Linked DNA regions of Homo sapiens: region 1 is linked to region 2. The links come from fine-mapping of genetic effects on gene expression. A gene starts in region 2. The other region holds a variant in brackets. All regions are shown on one strand. Distances are from middle to middle.

Region 1 (5,381 bases), 680 kb before region 2:
GGAAGCAAGACACATCTTACATGGCAGCAGGCAAGAGAGAGCTTGTGCAGGGGAACTCCCATTTATAAAACATCAGATCTCATGAGACTTGTTCACTATCATGAGAACAGTATGGGGGAAACCATCCCCATGATTCAATTATCTCCACCTGGCTCCCTCCTTGACATGTGGGGATTATTAAACTTCAAGGTGAGATTTGGATGGGGACACAGCCACACCATATCAAGGAGAGAGGCCCAGGTCAGATAGATAGATGTAGTGCCAGCAGCCTGTAAATAGCCACTGGGAGGCAGAGATGTTTGAAAGACCAAGAAAGGGGTGAAAAGAAAGAAGAGGACACAGAACAAAGCAGCAGTGGTTAAGCAGCAATAAAGCAAACCGTAGAGTGTATATTGTGCCTATGAGGATGGCTTCAGCTACAAGCAGCAGAAAACAAGTTCTGAATGGGCTTGAACAATAAGGCACAGTCATTGCCTCCCATGCTAAGTCCGTGGGCTGGGGTTTGCAGGGTTGGCTGATTTCATGTCTCTATGCCACCATCAAGGATCCAGGTGCTTTCCAGATTTTTTGCTCAGTGAGCTGACTTAGTCCTGCTTGTTCCCCTCACAGCTGCAAGATGGCTTTAGCAGTTCCAGGTATCATATCAGACATGAAAATCTCCAGCGGGGAGAAAGCACCATCTCCTCCTGGGTTCTCTTCTTTAATACTGAGAGATCCTTTCCAGAAGCCTGCAGCAGACTTCCCTCATTGCATGTGCCCATCCTAATCTCATCACTGGTAAGCGGAGTGGGAATTCCATGTAGTATTCTCCAAGAGTGGCCACAGACCAGTGGTACCAGCAGCACCTGGGGACTCTGTAGGAATGAGAATTCTCTGGCCCCACCCCAGACACACTGAATCAGAGTTGCTGGGGTTGGGGGTTTCTAGCTGATTCTGGTGCAGGCTAAAGTTTGGGAACCTCTGCCCTGGAAAAGTCAAACAAGCCAACAAACAAAAAAGCCTGAATTGGTTGGTGCTAATATGTCTCGGCTAAGAAAAGCTCAGCAATAGCCCTTATGCAGTCACAAAATAAAACCCCACTTTTCTTCACGAGGCTTTCTTGGCCATAGCCTATCTTTTAGCTCCAGCCTCCCCCATATCCCTGGCATCTCTTTTTCCCTGGCTGTGTAGAACCTTGATTTCATGGATTTATGCCTTTGCTAGAGTTCTGGCCCATCCTGTTCATCCACTTATCCTTCAAGGTGAATCTTTCCTGAGAACTCCACCCTGACTCCCTGCAACAGGAACCAGGGATCTTCCCCTCTCCTGTGAAACGCTTAAATGGCCAAACCACATACTGCATCATCGTGATATGTCTCTCTGTCTGGGACTCAGCTTCTGGGGGCAGAAACACCTGCTCTTCTCCTCATAACCCAGCTCCTAGGGCAGTGCCCAGCACTAAGCTAGCCCATACTGGAGGTTACTTGAATGAATGAAGTTCCCCTAGAAATAATGTCTTTCATCTGTGTACCGTTCACCCTCCTGAGAATAAAAAGCCCTATACAAACAGTGGCTCATAAATAAGGCATCCGAATGGCCACCAAACACCTAAACTTATGTCAGGAATTCCAAGGCCAAGAGCTTAATTGTGAACATCAGAAAAAACAGTATTTGATCCTGGCTCTGCTTGGTTACTAGCTGTGCAACCTTGGGCCAATTGTCTAATTTTGCTAAGTATTGCTATTCTCATCTGTAAGTTGGGAATATTAATAGCATCCAAATCAGTCTTATGATAATGTGAGTTGAGGCGCTGATATGGTTTGGCTGTGTCCCCACCCAAATCTCACCTTGAATTCCCTTGTGTTGTGGGAGGGGCCAGGTGGGAGGTGACTGAATCATGGGAGCAGGTCTTTCCCATGCTATTCTCGTGATAGTGAATAAGTCTCATGAGATCTGATGGTTTTATAAAGGCGAGTTTCCTTGTGCAAGCTCTCTTCTCTTGTCTCCTGCCATGTGAGACATGCATTTCACCTTCCACCATGATTGTGAGGCCTCCCCAGCCACATGGAACTGTAAGTCCATTAAACCTCTCTCTTTTGTAAATTTCCCAGTCTCGGGTATGTCTTTATCAGCAGTGTGAAAACAGACTAATACTGGCACCATGCTTGCCATATAGTAAG[G/T]CTCTAAAAATGCTGGCTCTTATTATTATTGGTTTCTGACAACCGTTCAAGTATTACAAGCAAACAGGTGCGGCGACTTGGTCAGTTCTGGTTTCAGTTGCCTCATTTCTAGGAGGCAATCAGCAGAAGATGATAAGGGGGCTCACATAATGTGGCTAGAGGCTTCTGAAGCTGCCTGATGTAGCCAGTTGGACCCAAATAAGAAATTGCAATGTGCTGCCCAAAGTTGTTCTAGGCAATCTCCTTGTGTGTGTGTGTTAAGGAAGAGAAGGAAAAAGCCACCAAGGAACAAAGACACCTGCTCTATGGAGACCCCTTCTGCCTGCTTGACAAGCTCTTCTTCATCCCTCAAAATGTAATCCAGACATTCTCTCTCTCCAGAAGCTGTCCCTGTGTCCTGAGTGGTCACTCAGCTTCAATGTCTCCTCTGACCCTGGTTCTGACACTTGCTTTAGCCTCATTGCACTGTGTGCCATGGTTGCTGACCCATCTGTCTTCAGCAGTAGACTATGAGCTCCCTGGGCCTAGCCCAAGGCCTGGCACAGAGGAGGGTGCAAAGTTGGTGGTCTTTCTCCTTCTCTAAGGAGTGTTATGTCTCTTTGGAGGAGCCTCAATTGACCTACAAAACAACCACAGCAAGCTTTCAGTATGGTACTTATGACCTCAGCCTGGGCTCAAGGGACCTCGATCCTGTCAGCAGTACCCTGTGGATGATGGGGCTCACAACCTGGGTGGTCAGAGGAGTTGGGCAGCCAAAGGATGAATGCATTTATGGTGGGATAGGAGTCGGCACAGCCAGGAGGAGAGGACAGCCCAAGAGAGGGCAGGGAAGGGACCCCCAGAATGGTGACAGCCTTGGCCTTGTGCCCCAGTGAGGCTGTCCCAGACTCTTATCACAGCCTCAGGACAATCAAGGCACCTATTCCTGCAACATCCCCCAACCCCATCCCACATGGCCAGAGCACAAATCCTAGTTAAAAATCCCCATGGACTTTGTTTACTGGGCTCCAGCTCTGGTTCTGTCATCAGCAGTTTGCATCTCTGATTAGCAACATTCTTATGATTTCTGTCCTACATCAGAAATGTAACGGCAATGTGGCAAGGATGGAGGTGGCCCCCCGCCCCTTCCCGTGTCTGAAAGCTTCCTCAGTGCTCAGTGGTGTTGCTGCTTGGGCATGTTAACTCTTCATCCTACAGGTCTGGACAGGGAGGGTGTGCATACAGAAGGAGGAAGGAGAACCAGGAAGGAGTTTCTTATCATGGCAGATCATAATATACACACCTGAACCTTTTCCTTAATCCTTCATGCCCTACCTCTTCCTTCGTTTTCATTTCTAATACTCATGGCTTACCCAAAATGCCAGAAGTCCATACTGCCATAAAAACCAAGAAAAGGAAACAGAAAAACAAGCCATTTCTTCTTTCTTATTAACTCAACAATCCCATGATCCACTGTATGTGTTTTTAGGGAAAGGATCACAGAGGTCAATCCACGTATCAGTGATCCTGATGTTTCTATCAAATGAATCATTTGAAATGGGATCTTCAGTTTATTTGAGCAGAATCACATCAGCGCTGTTCACAATGAAAAGTGTCTATGCCATGTGTTTGGATGTGAAGAAGTTTTTATCACAGCAAAAGTATAAAGGCTTGTATTACAACCTGGTAATCTCAGTGGCTTCCAGTTTTTGGCTTAGTTGGAGTCAACTTTGCTTAAAGAGAGGAAAACTATGTATAGCCAACCTAATAAATGAAAGTAGCCCAGCCCAGTTTCCAAGGTGGTAAAGCAATACACCCACAAGCCACAAAACCCCACTCTGGGAAAAAATGAGGCAGACTTTTGGCCTATCGTGCTTTTTATCCTTTTCTTTCCACCCCTCTTTCTTTCCCACACACCAGGGGGGTGAAAGACACCACGTCATTTGTACGGATCAAGCTCTCTTCTTGTAAGTTTCCAGTTAAACATTCTTTTGTAGCTGACACCTATTAATAATTTAAAGTGCTTGGTCTTTTGAACAATGATCAAAATTAAGCTATTACCCACAGGGGGATATTTACATACAGTTAGTCGGCAGCTGTTTAACAGCCTTTTCCATTCAAGATTTCTTGTGACCCTCTCTATCATTAGTAAGCAGAAGAATATTTGATGATTGTATGATTTTTTTCTTCTGTATATTTGATAAATGACCACTGGGAATCACTTAGGAAGTAAATAAGGTAATTCTTTGTGATTTCTGCAGGCTGCTGAAGTTATGAAAGAAGGGCAATTACTTTTAGATCCATCTACATGCAATTTACTAATAAGCCACAGAAGGCAGAAACATGTAATTAGTAATTACTATAGTATGTAGTGATTCGAGGCTTACCCAGTCAGTCTATGGGCCTATAATCTAGTAGGAGAAAATGAAATGAGTTAGTTCACAGAAGCAAGCCCCAGTATATTTAAAGCAAGTTGCTGACAATAAAACTAACTGATGTTTATAGAGACCATGGCAGTACATTGCGCGTTGCTACATCCAGCCTCTTGCCTGACCCCTACCCCTGGGCTGATGTAAAATAGCCTCCTTGCCTCCATTTTTAATGAGGGCCAGACTCAAAATGTGTTGAGGGGTTTCCTGAGATCACAGGCTAATGAGGGGTGGGCCTGGATCCTGAGCTTCAGGTTGCAGGCCCATTGCTGTCCACAGCATCATAATGTCACCTAGTCATGCTGCCAGATCGGTGACTCACATCCTAGGAGTCAGACATATACAGGACTCAGAAGCCAAAGGTGCATATTTATGATGGAGTTGAAGGCTGTGAAGAGAAGGAAGAAGAATAATGGACATGAGACAAGTGCCTAGTTTTGACGGAGGGACACTGGACATTTAATGCATATTATCTTCTTGACAATAGCTAAGCATTATTGTGCCTATATTACCTCCTATATTTACAGGAGAGGAAATCGAGCTTCAGTGGGGTCACTTGGTCAGGATCTCTCAAAGTGTTAAGTGGCGGAGCTGAACTATGACACTGAGTAATTCTGACTTCAATAGCAGCAATCTCTCTCCCTCACACCTGGTGGGTGTGACTCCTTATTCCAGCAAACTAAGTGTATCTTCATCAAGTATCTCAAAAAGAGTAATTTGGAGCAAATAAGCGAGCTCATAGATAGCAGGATCTTAAAGCTGACTGTTTTGTCCCAGAAATCTCAACTTTAGGAATCTATCCTAAAAAAAAAAG
Region 2 (5,371 bases):
CACCATTGCACTCCGCCTGGGCAATAAGAGCGAAACTCCGTCTCAGAAAAAAAAAAAAAAAAAGGAAAAAAAAATTGATTGCTCCAGAAATATTTTCTTTAACGTGAAACAGACATGTAAAGAATGTAAATATATATGTTCCGGAGAAATAATAAGAAGAATTTCCCAAATGTTAGTGCAGACGAGGTGTCCAAGGTGCAGGCTTTGCGGGCAGCTTTCCTATTTTCTTTTTTTTTTTTTCCTGAGACAGAGTCTAGCTCTTGTCACCCAGGTTGGAGAGCAATGGCTTCATCGCGGCTCACTGCAACCTCGACCTCCCGGATTCAAGCGATTCTCCTGGCTCAGCTTCCAGAGTAACTAAAATTACAGGCCTGCGCCACAATGCCCAGCTAATTTTTGTATTTTTAGGAGAGACGGGGTTTCACCATGTTGGCCAGGCTGGTCTCCAACTCCTGACCGCAAGTGATCCGCCCCCGCCTCGGCCTCTCAAAGTGCTGGGATTATAGGCGTGAGCCACCGTCCCCGGCCGACTATTTTTCTTTTTTTTCGTTTTTTGTTTTTTTTTTTTTTTTTGAGACCGCATCTCGCTCTGTCACCCAGGCTGGAGTGCAGTGGCGGGATCTCGGGTCACTGCAACATCCGCCTCCCAAGTTCAAGCGATTCTTCTGCCTCAGCCTCCCGAGGTGACCAACTATCCTTATTCTTAAGAAAATAGTCAGCCGGCTGGGCACGGTGGCTCATGCCTGTAATCCCAGCACTCTGGAAGGCCGAGGCAGGCAGATCACGAGGTCAGGAGTTCAAGACCAGCCTAGCCAATATGGTGAAACCCCGTCTCTACTAAAAATACAAAAATTAGCCAGGCATGGTGGTGCGCACCTGTAGTCCCAGCTACTCGGGAGGCTGAGGCAGAAGAATATTTATTGAGTGATTGTAATGTGCCTGTTACATTCTAATTACTTTTACCTTCATTTTGCTATTTAACCTTCCCATTGACTCTAAGAAATAGGATACATATTACTCACCCATGTTATAAATGGGGAAACTAACACACAATAAGATTAAATAACTTTCCCAAGTTCACACTTTATATACGTGTATATATACACGTATGTGTATATATACACATATATCTATATCTATATCTATATATATATATATATATATTTTTTTTTTTTTTTTTTTTGAGGCAGAGTCTTGCTCTGTTGCCCAGGCTGGAGTGCAGTGGCACAATCTTGGCTCACTGCAACCTCCGCCTCCCGGATTTAAGCGATTCTCCTGCCTTAGCCTCCTGAGTTGCTGGAATTACAGGAATGCGCCACCACACCAGGCTAATTTTTGTATTTTTTAGTAGAGACGGAGTTTCACCATATTGGTCAGGCTGGTCTCAAATTCCTGACCTCATGATCTGCCCACCTCGGCCTCCCAAAGTGCTGAGATTACAGGCGTGAGCCACCGCGCCCGGCCTGCACAACTTTATTTTTTATTTTTTTTTATTTTTGAGATGGAGTTTCACTCTTGTCGCCCAGGCTGCAGTGCAATGGCATGGTCTCGGCTCACTGCAACCTCCACCTCCCAGCTTCAAGCGATTCTCCTGCCTCAGCCTCCCGAGTACCTGGGATTACAGGCGCACACCACCAACCCCAGCTAATTTTTGTATTTTTAGTAGAGATGGGGTTTCACCATGTTGACCAGGCTGGTCCCGAACTCCTGACCTCAGGTGATCCGCCCACCTTGGCCTCCCAAAGTGCTAGGATTACAGGCGTGAGCCACCACGCCTGGCTGCCTACACAACTTTAAATGGTGAAAGCTAGACTCCCATGATGGCACTGTGATTTCATAACTTTTGCTCTTAACCTCTAGATAAGTCACACACGATCCAACCCTTGTTGGTATAATATTGTAAACATCAGAGCCGGGTGTGGTGGCTCACACCTGTAATCCTATCACTTTGGGAGACTGAGGCGGGCGGATCACGAGGTCAGGGATTCGAGACCAGCCTGGCCAACATAGTAAAACCCCGTCTCTACTAAAAATACAAAAATTAGCTGGGCGTGGTGGCGGGCGCTTGTAGTCCCAGCTACTCGGGAGGCTGAGCCAGGAGAATCGCTTGAACCCGGGAGGCGGAGGTTGCGGTGAGCCGAGATTTCGCCACTGCACTCCAGTCTAGGCGACAGAGCGAGACTCCGTCTCAAAAAAAAAAAAAAAAAAAAAACAAAAAAAACCCATAATGTTGACTATATATATATATATATATATATATATATAGTCAACATTATTTCATGATTAAGTGATGGAGTACCGAAATGAGTTAGAAAAACCTGATATGCCTCGTTTGTCTGTGACATTGTGTTTTGCTAGTGAGGATCCATGGCGTCTGAAAATGAGATAGCGTCCCTTCTTAAAAATTGAAAGTTGTTAAACACTTTTGTTAAGTTCTGTTTTGAGTTTCTCACAAATAATGAGGACTTAGTTCTAATTCTAAGCGCTAAGCCCTGTGGTGATGTGATTTCCTTGCTAGGCTCATGCACTAATATATCACACTAGGATCACCTCCCACAAGTTCTCACAGACTGTAGACAACTTATTTCAAGACATGAATGATCTTTACTTTCCATTCTCCCTTTTCTTCTGTAGATTACCATGGCTGTTTTCACTCTAACAGATTTTCAACTGTTTTTGTAATCAATAATGTAAGTTTAATTCTTCCCCCCTCCCTCCAAATAACTTCATGAACTGGAGGCACATGTGCGCCCATATTTTCCGCTCTGTTTTCCTTTGTTGGTCCTCCACAGATAGTGCCCTCTGTTGGATGGGCCGGTTCATTTTAGCTTCCACCTTCCCTTAAAACAATTAGAAGCTCTTAATTTAGATGGTACTGATGTTAATGATGATGATTTTCCATTTTATGCAAGTTTTGGCCCTCTGCTTGTCTAAAAGCCTTGAGGCAAAGAGTTATATGCAGTTTCTCTGCGGGTGTCTGATTACGTGGAGAAATTGACCAGAAATGGGATTTTTAAAATACAGCACACGCCTCGGTGCGGCTTCCAGTAAGCGCCACCAGGTGACGGTGCGGGGAAAGGGAAAAAAAAAAAAAAAAAAGGCATGCCGGAAGTCTCTCTTGACAGACAGACGCGCGGGCGAGTAGCGGAAGAGGAAGCGGACACGTGGGACACTCTACGGTGGCCGAGAGGATGCCGCAGATGTGTTAGCGGCGAGTCCAGAAGCAGCCCCAGGAGGTGCTGGGGGCATCGTTTCTCTAATCTGGCCTCCCGAGTGCCAAGGAGGCGTCCCGGCAGCGGTCATCATGGTGAAGGAGCAGTTCCGGGAGACGGATGTGGCCAAGAAAATGTAAGACGGAGTAAGAGTGGCCAAAGGGCTGAGAAATAGGGCAAGGGGTCCGAGGTCAGCGGTCCCGGGTCTTGCAGGGTCAGAGATGGGGTGCAATGGGAAGGGGAGGGCCAGTAGTCCATAGGTGTGACCAGCGCCCAGAACTACCAGCGTTGGTCAAAGAGCATTGGTCAGGCTGAGGGGATTTCAGCACCTCGAGAGGTCCCTGGACTTGGGCGGAGAAGTCGGAGTGGCCTGAGCCTTAATGATTTGTGCACCCTGGGCCAAAGCTCGCATTCTCCTGAAGTCATACAATGATCCCTGTTCTTCAGCGAACTATCCCCTGCTGCAGCGAGGGGAGCAATCTGGGGCGGGGACTGTCTCTAATTCTGTCAGCCGCAGAGCGTCTGACACGGAGGCAGTAGTTGCTTACCAAAAGGATGGGGTTGCCCACTAGAAAGCTGTACCACAGGCCGACGGATGGCAGTGTCAGAAATAAAGCTGCTATCCGGACTTTTGCCTTCAGAAATACGTTATTAGGCGGTGGCTCCTTCTTAGAGTTCTCGGTAAGAAAGTGAATCCAGCCGGGCGCGGTGGCTTACTCCTGTAATCCCAGCACTTTAGGAGGCCGAAGCGGGTGAATCTCCTGAGCTCAGGAGTTTGAGACTAGCCTGGGCAACGTGGCGAAACCCCGTCTCTATCAAAAATACAAAAATTAGCAGGCGTGGTGGCGCGCCCTTGTGGTCCCAGCTACTCGGGAGGCTGAGGCCGAAAAATCACTTGAGCCTGGGAGGCAGAGGTTGCAGTGGGCAACCTCCTGCATTCCACCCTGAGTGACAGAGTGAGACGGTGTCTCAAAAAAAAAAGTGAATTCATCATTCTTACAGCAGACACTGAGGAGGATACTGCGCGTTATTCCCAGTGTTGGACGTTAAAGATACGGTCTGAATAAAACTTTTACTGCCTAATCTAGTTGGAGAAGGTACACAAGTCAACACTGGGTACGACAAGTGCAATGACAAGGGTAGGTCCAGGGGGTTTTGAGAGCACATAATGGGTCCAGGCAAAAGAAAGCAGACCAAACTGCTTTTTTCAAGGAGCAGACCTGAGGGAGAGAACACAGGTGATCAGAAGGAAGCAGAAGACTTGAAGCTGTGTTAAGAAGTCATCTTGTAGGCAGTGAGGAACCTTTGAAGGATTTTCAACAGGAGAGTATCTTGATAAGAGTTCTCCTTCTGGAAAATCTCTTGATTCATGGTGGAAAGAATTAGAGGTCGAGAGACCTTGAGACGGATATACAGAATGCCTTGCTTGGGCAGCTGTGTGGATGGTTGCCATTCACTAGAACAGGTGTCTTACCTAGGTGAATGCAGCATTCTCCCATGTGGTAGCTCTACATCGACACTGGCCCTTCACACCCACCTGTACACCTGCGCCCAGTCAGATATAATACATTCTCACAAAACAGAGAAAGTGCTTCTGTCAAAGTGCAAATTAAGGGTATTGTCAATTAAAATCCTCTAGCAGAGGCCAGGAGTGGTGGCTCACGTCTGTAATCCCAGCACTTTGGGAGGCCATGGCAGGCAGATCATGAGGTCAGAAGTTCAAGACCAGACTGGCCAATATGGTAAAACCTCATCTCTACTAAAAATACAAAAATTAGCTGGGTGCGGTGGCGCATGCCTGTATGCCTGTAACCCCAGCTACTTGGGAGTCTGAGGCAGGAGAATCGCTTGAACCCAGGAGGCAGAGGTTGCAGTGAGCTGAGATCGCACCACTGCACTCCAGCCTGGGTGACAGAGCAAGACTCTGTCTCAGGGAAAAAAAAAAATCCTCTAGCAGCTTTCCATTGTGTGGGCCATCACGCCTAGCAAATTTTTTGTATTTTTAGTAGAGACAGGGTTTCACCATGTTAGCCAGGATGGTCTCAATCTCCTTGCCTCGTGATCCACCCACCTTGGCCTCCCAAAGTGCTGGGATTACAGGCATGAGCCACCGCACCCGGCTGCATTTATGTTATTTAAATAAATTCCCTACCAAAGTT

Direction of the effects. Alleles are on the strand shown, and positions count from the first base shown. SD is a standard deviation of normalised expression in the study named.
For the expression in hypothalamus of the gene that starts at base 3,197 in region 2, allele G in region 1 goes with a lower level than allele T (moderate effect, 0.74 SD a copy in GTEx).

The links.
Region 1: its variant is fine-mapped to the expression of POLR3A in hypothalamus (GTEx, PIP above 0.99).

What each region holds. Positions count from the first base shown.
Region 1 is chr10:78,705,940-78,711,320 of GRCh38, reverse strand. All of the region lies in intron 1 of LOC105378379 (a long non-coding RNA gene), which reads left to right. Among named protein-coding and RNA genes, the nearest start is that of ZMIZ1-AS1, 360 kb to the left of the region's middle. The variant G/T (reference allele first, on the strand shown) is at 2,160.
Region 2 is chr10:78,027,341-78,032,711 of GRCh38, reverse strand. POLR3A (RNA polymerase III subunit A) reads left to right here and starts at 3,197. Exons shown (of 31, transcript NM_007055.4): 1 at 3,197-3,348. The coding sequence starts at 3,305. RefSeq lists an enhancer at 3,028-3,277.